Linked DNA regions of Homo sapiens. The protein of the gene in region 2 purifies or fractionates together with the protein of the main gene of each other region. This does not show direct contact. Each region holds a gene or a part of one and is shown on either strand. Other genes may lie near its edges.

Region 1 (3,752 bases), on a different chromosome or scaffold from region 2:
GGTTGCAGGGAGGCAGAGGTTGCAGTGAGCCGAGATCGCGCCACAGCACTCCAGCCTGGGCGACAGTGCAAGACTCCACCCTCCAAAAAAAAAAAAAGTAAAATAAATAAATACATAAATAGGCTGGGCGCGGTGGCTCATGACTATAATCCCAGCACTTTGGGAGGCCAAGGGGGGTGGATCACCTGAGACTCCGTCTCAAAAAAAAAAACAAAAACAAACAAACAAAAAACCTAGAAGATCATTAACTACTGGAATCATGGCCATTCTCTCAATACATTCTACTGCACGTGGCCCGAGAGCCTTTGCTCCGGCTATTTTTTCTAGCGCAGTGCCCTTCTACACATTAGCAATCCAGTCCCGCCATACGCCAGGCCCATGTGGGGACCTCCGCGATGGCCAAGCCCTGGGCCTGCCAGCGCATGGCTCTACCTTCAAGGCAGGTGGCCCGGAGATCTGCGTCCAGCCCACCCTGGATAATGGCGAAGAGGTTCTGCTTGTCCGGCCGCTGATGGGCTGCAATGCACCGGTCCAGCCAGCGGATTGACCTGCAACAGGGCCCCAGTCACAAGCCCCAGGGGCCTGGTGAGGGGGTAGGAGACAAGGCTACAGGGACCAGGATCCCCTCCCACCACATATCCCACACATGCACACAGCATATACACACCTGTACATGGCCTCCTCCACACGTGGCCCAGTCACAGTACTGCTAACCACGTCGTCCAGCTGCATGATGATGTCCGAGCCTGATGGTGAGATGGGGGCAACATCACTGGGAAAGCCCGCAATGCTTGGGGAAAGCCTGCCGTCACATGGGGACAAGTTGGACTTCCCCAAGAGCATCCCCCCATCCCCCGTCTTGCTAACTCCCACGTGACTTTCCCGGTCTGTTTATACAGCAGCCAGAAGGAGCTTTACAGAATGTGCCTTTGATCCTGCCTCTCCCCAGCTTAAAATCCTATCCTGTTACACAAAATAAAATCCTAAAATATACAAAGGGATCCCTTGCTATGTGGCGTGCCACAGCAAGACCGGGAAACCAAACGTCCATCAGCAGGGCTCTGCTGACTGGGCGCAGTGACTACGCCTGTAATCCCAGCACTTGGGGACGCCGAGGCAGGCAGGTCATCTGAGGTCAGGAGTTCAAGACCAGCCTCGCCAACATGGTGAAACCCCATCTCTCCTAAAAACACAAAAATTAGCCAGGTATGATGGCACGTGCCTGTATTCCCAGCTGCTTGGAAGGCAGAGACAGGAGAATAGCTTGAATCTGGGAGACAGAGGTAGCAGTGAGCCAAGATTGTGCCACTGCACTCCAGCCTGGATGACAGAGCAAGGCTGTGTTAAAAAAAAAAAAAAAAGGTTAAAAAAAAAAAAACAGGCGCGATGGCTCACGCTTGTCATCTCAGCACTTTGGAAGGCCAACCCAGGTGGATCATTTGAGGTCAGGAGTTCGAGACCAGCCTGGCCAAGGTGGTGAAACCCCGTCTCTACTAAAAATACAAAAATTAGCCGGGCGTGGTGGTATATTCCTGTAATCCCAGCTACTCAAGAGGCTGAGGCAGGAGAATCGCTTGAACCCGGAAGACGGAGGTTGCGGTGAGCTAAGATTGCACCACTGTACTCCAGCCAAGGCGACAGAGCGAGACACCGTCTCAAAAACAAAACAAAAGTGCTAAGATTATAGGCATGAGCCACGGTGCACAGCATAGTGGTTTAGTGGCATAAAATGAAACTTGATGACCTATAATCCAAACACTTTGGAAGGCCCAGGCGGAAGGATCACTAGAGCCCAGGAGTTCGAGACCACCCTGGGCAACACAGAGAGACCCCATCTCCATTATTAAGAAAATAAATAGATGAAAACAATTTAAAATAAAAAAGAACAGGCCACAGCCGGGCGCAGTGGCTCACGCCTGTAATCCCAGCACTTTGGGAGGCCAAGGCGTGTGGATCACCAGGTCAGGAGATTGACACCATCCTGGCGAACACAGTGAAACCCTGTCTCTGCTAAAAATACAAAAAATTAGCCGGGCGTGGTGGCGGTCACCTGTAGTCCCAGCTACTCGGGAACTGAGGCAGGAGAATGGTGTGCACCCGGGAGGTGAAGCTTGCAGTGAGCCGAGATCGCACCACTACACTCCAGCCTGAGTGACAGAGCGAGACTCTGTCTCCACAAAAAAAAAAAAAAAAAAAAAAAAAAAAAAGAACAGGCCAGGCCTGGTGGCTTGCGCCTGTAACCCCAGCACTTTGGGAGGCCAAAGCAGGTCAATCACTTGAGATCGGGAGTTCAAGACCACCCTGGCCAATATGGTGAAACCCTGTCTCTACAACAAATACAAAAATTAGCCCGGCATGGTGGCATGCACCTGAAGTCCCAGCTACTTGGGAGGCTGAGGCAGGAGAATCGCTTGAACCCAGGAAGCAAAGGTTGCAGTGAGCCGAGATTGCACCACAGTACTCCAGCCCGGGTGACAGAGCGAGATTGTGTCTCAAAAAAGAAAAAAAGGGGCAGGCGTGGTGACTCACGCCTGTAGTCCCAGCACTTTGGGAGGCCGAGACGGGTGGATCACCTTAGGTCAGGAGTTCGAGACCGGCCTGGCCAACATGGTGAAACCCCGTCTCTACTAAAAATATAAAAACTAGCCAGGTGTGGTGATGGGCACCTGTAATCCCAGCTACTCGGGAGGCTGCAGCAGGAGAAGTGCTTGAACCCAGAAGACAGAGGTTGCAGTAAGCCAACACAGTGCCACTGCACTCCAGCCTTGGTCAAAGAGTGAGACTCCTTCTCAAAAAAGAAAAAAAAAAAGAAAAGACGAAAAAATAAATATGGGGCTGGGTGCGGTGGCTCACGCCTGTAATCCCAGCCCTTTGGGAGGCTGAGGCAGGTGGACCACCTGAAGTCAGGAGTTCAAGACCAGCCTGACCAACAAGGTGAAACCCCGTCTCTACTAAAAGTACAAAAATTACCAGGCGTGGTGGCAGGCACCTGTAGTCCCAGCTGCTGGGGAGGCTGAGGCAGGAGAATAGCTTAAACCCGGGCAGCAGAGGTTGCAGTGAGCCAAGATCGAGCCACTGCACTCCAGCCTAGGTGACAGAGCGAGATTCCACATCAAAAAAAAAAAAAAAAATTACGACATTCATTAAAAAGCTAGAACTTTAGCTGGGCATGGTGGCTCACACCTGTAATGCCAGCACTTTGGGAGGCTGAGGCAGGCGGATCACCTGAGGTCGGGAGTTCAAGACCAGCCTGACCAACATGGAGAAACCCCGTCTCTACCAAAAATACAAAATTAGCCGGGCATGGTGGCGCATGCCTGTCATCCCAGCTACTCGGGAGGCTGAGGCAGGAGAATCGCTTGAACCCAGGAGGCAGAGGTTGCTGTGAGCCGAGATTGCGCCATTGCACTCCAGCCTGGGCAACAAGAGCGAAACTCGGTTTCAAAAAAAAAGAGGCCGGGTGCGGTGGCTCACGCCTGTAATCCCAGCACTTTGGAAGGCCGAGATGGGCGAATCACGAGGTCAGGAGATCGAGACCATCCTGGCTAACACGATGAAACCCCGTCTCTAGTAAAAGTACAAAAAAATTAGCTGGGCGTAATGGCGGGTGCCTGTAGTCCCAGCTACTCCGGAGGCTGAGGCAGGAGAATGGCATGAACCCAGGAGGCGGAGCTTGCAGTGAGCCGAGATCGCGCCACCGCACTCCAGCCTGGGAGACTAAGCAAGACTCCATCTCCAGAAAAAACAAACAA
Region 2 (3,752 bases):
ACTGAGGCAGGAGGACTGCTTCAGCCCCGGAGGTGGAAGTTGCAGTGAGCAAGAGCATGCCACTGTACTCCAACCTCCACCTTGGGTGACAGAGCAAGACCGCTTCCAAAAAAAGAATTTGCTTAAAGTACAGGAGTAGACAGGATATGTGCTTGTTGCCCAGCTCTCTGCCCCCTAGTGCCCAACGAAATTGCCAGTCAGGCACAATAATAATTGTATACATTTACAGAAACTTTATTACATACCAGTATGTATTTTATGTACATAAGCAACTCACTAGCCAGTCTTAAAGTATTCTCTTTTTTATCTAGCTCAGCAGCATCAAATAATGTGCCCATGTCCGAGTCCCCAAGCTAGTAGAGGATGAGCCGTGAATTTAAATTCCCTCTGTATTACCCTTCTTCATTTAATCCCTCAGTGTGCGTGTGTGTATTGGTCCAGATTCTAAGCCAGTAATATGATTTCCAAACACTAAGACTTTAGGTGATATTGGTAAAAGTTTTTACGTTCTAAAATGTATTTTAAGTGCAGTAACTAGCATTAGTAGTAAACCTATTATTTCAGAAATATTATTGCTTCAGGTAAACACATTATTACTCCAACTTCACGAGGCTGTCATGAAAAATGTGTTTCTGAAAGAGCTTCAGCACACCGCCTGGCCCTCAATGAGCAATCCTTAAGTGGGAGGTAGGCCGGGCTCAGTGGCTCGCGCCTGTAATCTCAGCACCTTGAGAGGCAGAGACGGGAGGATCGCTTGAGTGTAGGGTTTAGGACTACCCTGGGCCAAACAGTGAGACCCCTTATCTACAATTTACAAAACTTAGCCGAGAGTGGTGGCGCGCACTCATAGTCCCAGCTACTCTGGAGGCTGAGACAGGAGAAGTCGAGGCTTCCCTGAGCTATCATCACGCCACTGCACTCCAGCCTCGGCAACAGAGCGAGACCCTGTCTCACAAAAATAAAAATAAAAGTAATGGGAGCTACCGTGGTTACTGATGGCAAGAAAAGGTGCAAGCACTTCAAGCACAAAACCGATAGCACCGAAGTCTGCGAGCGTCTCAGGACTAGGGACGGAAACGCCGGCGAGGCCACGCCCCTACAGCCGTCACGCCGACGACCCGAGGCGCGCATGCCCATACCAGCAGCCATCCCTCCACCCTTCCCTCCTCCCGCAAGGCCTGGCAGCCGGCCCGCCCGCCCACCCCGGGACCGGTACCTTTTCTGGCCCATACATGTCGTCGCCGTATTCGTTGAGGAGGCTGTAGGCCTCCTCCACGCACTTGCGCTCGTTCATATTGCAGGTGATGAGGATGCCCTGTAGCCCGGGCTCTAGCTGACGGGGCCCGCCAGCGTCGCAGCGCCGAGCGCGCTTGGCCAGCACATACTGAGCCTTGCCTTTGCGCTTCCCGCCGCCAGGCTGAGTAGTCTGCTGGGCAGGGGCCGCCATGGTGTGCGCAAACTGAGAGGAAAGAGAAACGTTTCTCCGCTGCTGTTGGCGTCCTCGTCTATCGCCGGCGCGAACTGGTGACGTCGGATATGAGCGACGGCCTCCCCTAGCCGGCCTCGAAGCCTCATTCCGTGCTGCGCCAGGTCCTAAGGCCGGTCTGCAATCGTGAAAGGGGTGGAGTGATACCCGCCCAAGCCCCGCCTCCTGCCCCGCCTCCCGACTGCAACCTGAATCCAGTAGAGGCAGCATAGCAGCCATTCTGGAAGTGGTGTCGGTGGCTCCTCAAGCCCTTGAAGCTGGCTCCAGCCATATAGCTTCTTCCACCCAACCTTGGTACCTGTTCCTCCAGCCTTCCCTATAATTCTGCCAGCTACTGTGGAGGAAAAGTTAAATATTAAATTTGAACTCAATTGAACGTGGACACAATGGTCAAGTCCCGTAACAGGTTGCATGAGCCCCTTGAGGCATTCATTCATCCAGCACTGTTACAGATAACTCTGTACCTGTACTTGAGTTATTGAAAAACAGACAATCACAGAAACAAGTTGACCTTTATGTGTTCCTTGAGCCCAGTCGAGAAGGGCCCTCGTGACTGGGCCTCATGCCAATCAACGCATTACAAAAAGAGCCAGGGTCGGCCGGGCACGGTGGCTCACGCCTGTAATCCCAGCACTTTGGGAGGCCAAGGCAGGCAGATCACGAGGTCAGGAGATGGAGACCATCCTGACCAACATCTCTACTAAAATGCAAAAAATTAGCCAGGCGTGGTGGCGCGCACCTGTAGTCCCAACTACTCGGGAGGCTGAGGCAGGGGAATCACTCGAACTCGGGAAGCGGCGGTTGCAGTAAGCCGAGATCGTGCCATTGCACTCCAGCCTGGCAACAAAGCGAGGCTCTGTCTCAAAAAAAAAAAAAAAATGAGCCAGGGTCCCAGGCCACACGGAAGCTTCTTGAGACCCCTCCTCCTCTGTGCACGGACAAGTGGCTGACTCTGGAGCCCAGGCTGTTGCTTCCCGGTCTGGTGATGAATCCAACATAGTCTGGTGCGTGTAAATATATATATATATATATATATTTTTTTTTTTTCCCTTCTCCCCTTCCCATTGCAATTTGCTTACTATATCATTTGCTTATTATATCTGCATTGCCATTTACGTGGGATAAAGGTTGTTTACCCCCAAAGGTATTGTATGTTTGTCTATTTTTTTTTTTTTTTTTTGAGATGGAGTCTCGCTCTGTCGCCCAGGCTGGAGTGCAGTGGTGCGATCTGGGCTCACTGCAAGCTCCGCCTCCCAGGTTCACCCCATTCTCCTGCCTCCCTCCCGAGTAGCTGGGACTACAGGCGCCCGCCACCACGCCCGGCTAATATTTTTTATTTTTAGTAGAGACGGGGTTTTACCGTGTCAGTCAGGATGGTCTCAATCTCCTGACCTCGTGATCCACCCGCCTCGGCCTCCCAAAGTGCTGAGATTACAGGCGTGAGCCACCGCGCCTGGCCGTATTTTGTCTTGTTTTTTCCCCTCGCGCATTTCCCACATAGAACAGTTACTCAAAAGGCTTCCAGTAAATTCCATTTCAGCCTCAATTTTCCAGGCTATGTTTCTATTTCACTTAAAACCAAGGATGTTGGCTGGTGTTGTTTCATGCTGCTTTCGTTGCGGCCTTTTATCCATAGTCTTGGCAACTTATCATGTTACTGTCTTTTTAAAAATCATTGAAGATGCCACTTTTGAAGAATGTGTTTAAAAAACAAGTGCTTCTCATACTACTCTTCAGGTACAAACCTCTTAGCAGATTTGAGTTCCTACAAAGCCCTAAAAGATGTAATCTGATATTTTGAAAGGGACACCGAATTCACAGTCAATAAACCCTAGGTTCTAACCCCAGATCTACCACTATGTCCAAAAATTTTATCATCTTATTGTTTGCTTTTACCTGTGTATTCAATACAGCATTTAATTTTCAGAATTTCTTTGGTGGACACTGCACAGCAGAGATTTCTAGAAGTCCTCAGTTGTTTGTGAAGAGCAGTGTCATGACACTGGCATTGGCCTTCCCCCAAATCTCTCTCTCTTCTGCTGGCTGGGTTTCAGTTGCCCACACTCTGCCACCTGTCCTTAGGATATCAAATATTAGCATACAGATAACAAGTTAAAATATATATATTTCAAGTCCCAAGCATATTTGAGTACTATATGGAGGCAAACTTGAAAAACAAAAACTCAGTTTTGTTAAAATATGTGAGGAGGCAGCTTTAGGCTAAATTTAAGTTTGGCCTAAATCAAGCTTGTCCAACCTGTTGGCC

The links. Proteins that work in one complex are often made in the same cells at the same time.
Region 1: the proteins of THUMPD1 (region 2) and QTRT1 purify together in Homo sapiens (affinity purification with mass spectrometry; 3 studies listed by BioGRID and IntAct, with this or other methods). This does not show direct contact.

Annotation. Positions count from the first base shown.
Region 1 is NC_000019.10:10,704,296-10,708,047, reverse strand, and holds part of QTRT1 (queuine tRNA-ribosyltransferase catalytic subunit 1), read right to left. Parts: intron 747-3,752; coding exon 668-746; intron 549-667; coding exon 433-548; intron 1-432.
Region 2 is NC_000016.10:20,740,293-20,744,044, forward strand, and holds the start of THUMPD1 (THUMP domain-containing protein 1), read right to left. Parts: upstream 1,527-3,752; 5' UTR 1,448-1,526; coding exon 1,217-1,447; intron 1-1,216. UniProt on the Homo sapiens protein: Functions as a tRNA-binding adapter to mediate NAT10-dependent tRNA acetylation modifying cytidine to N4-acetylcytidine (ac4C).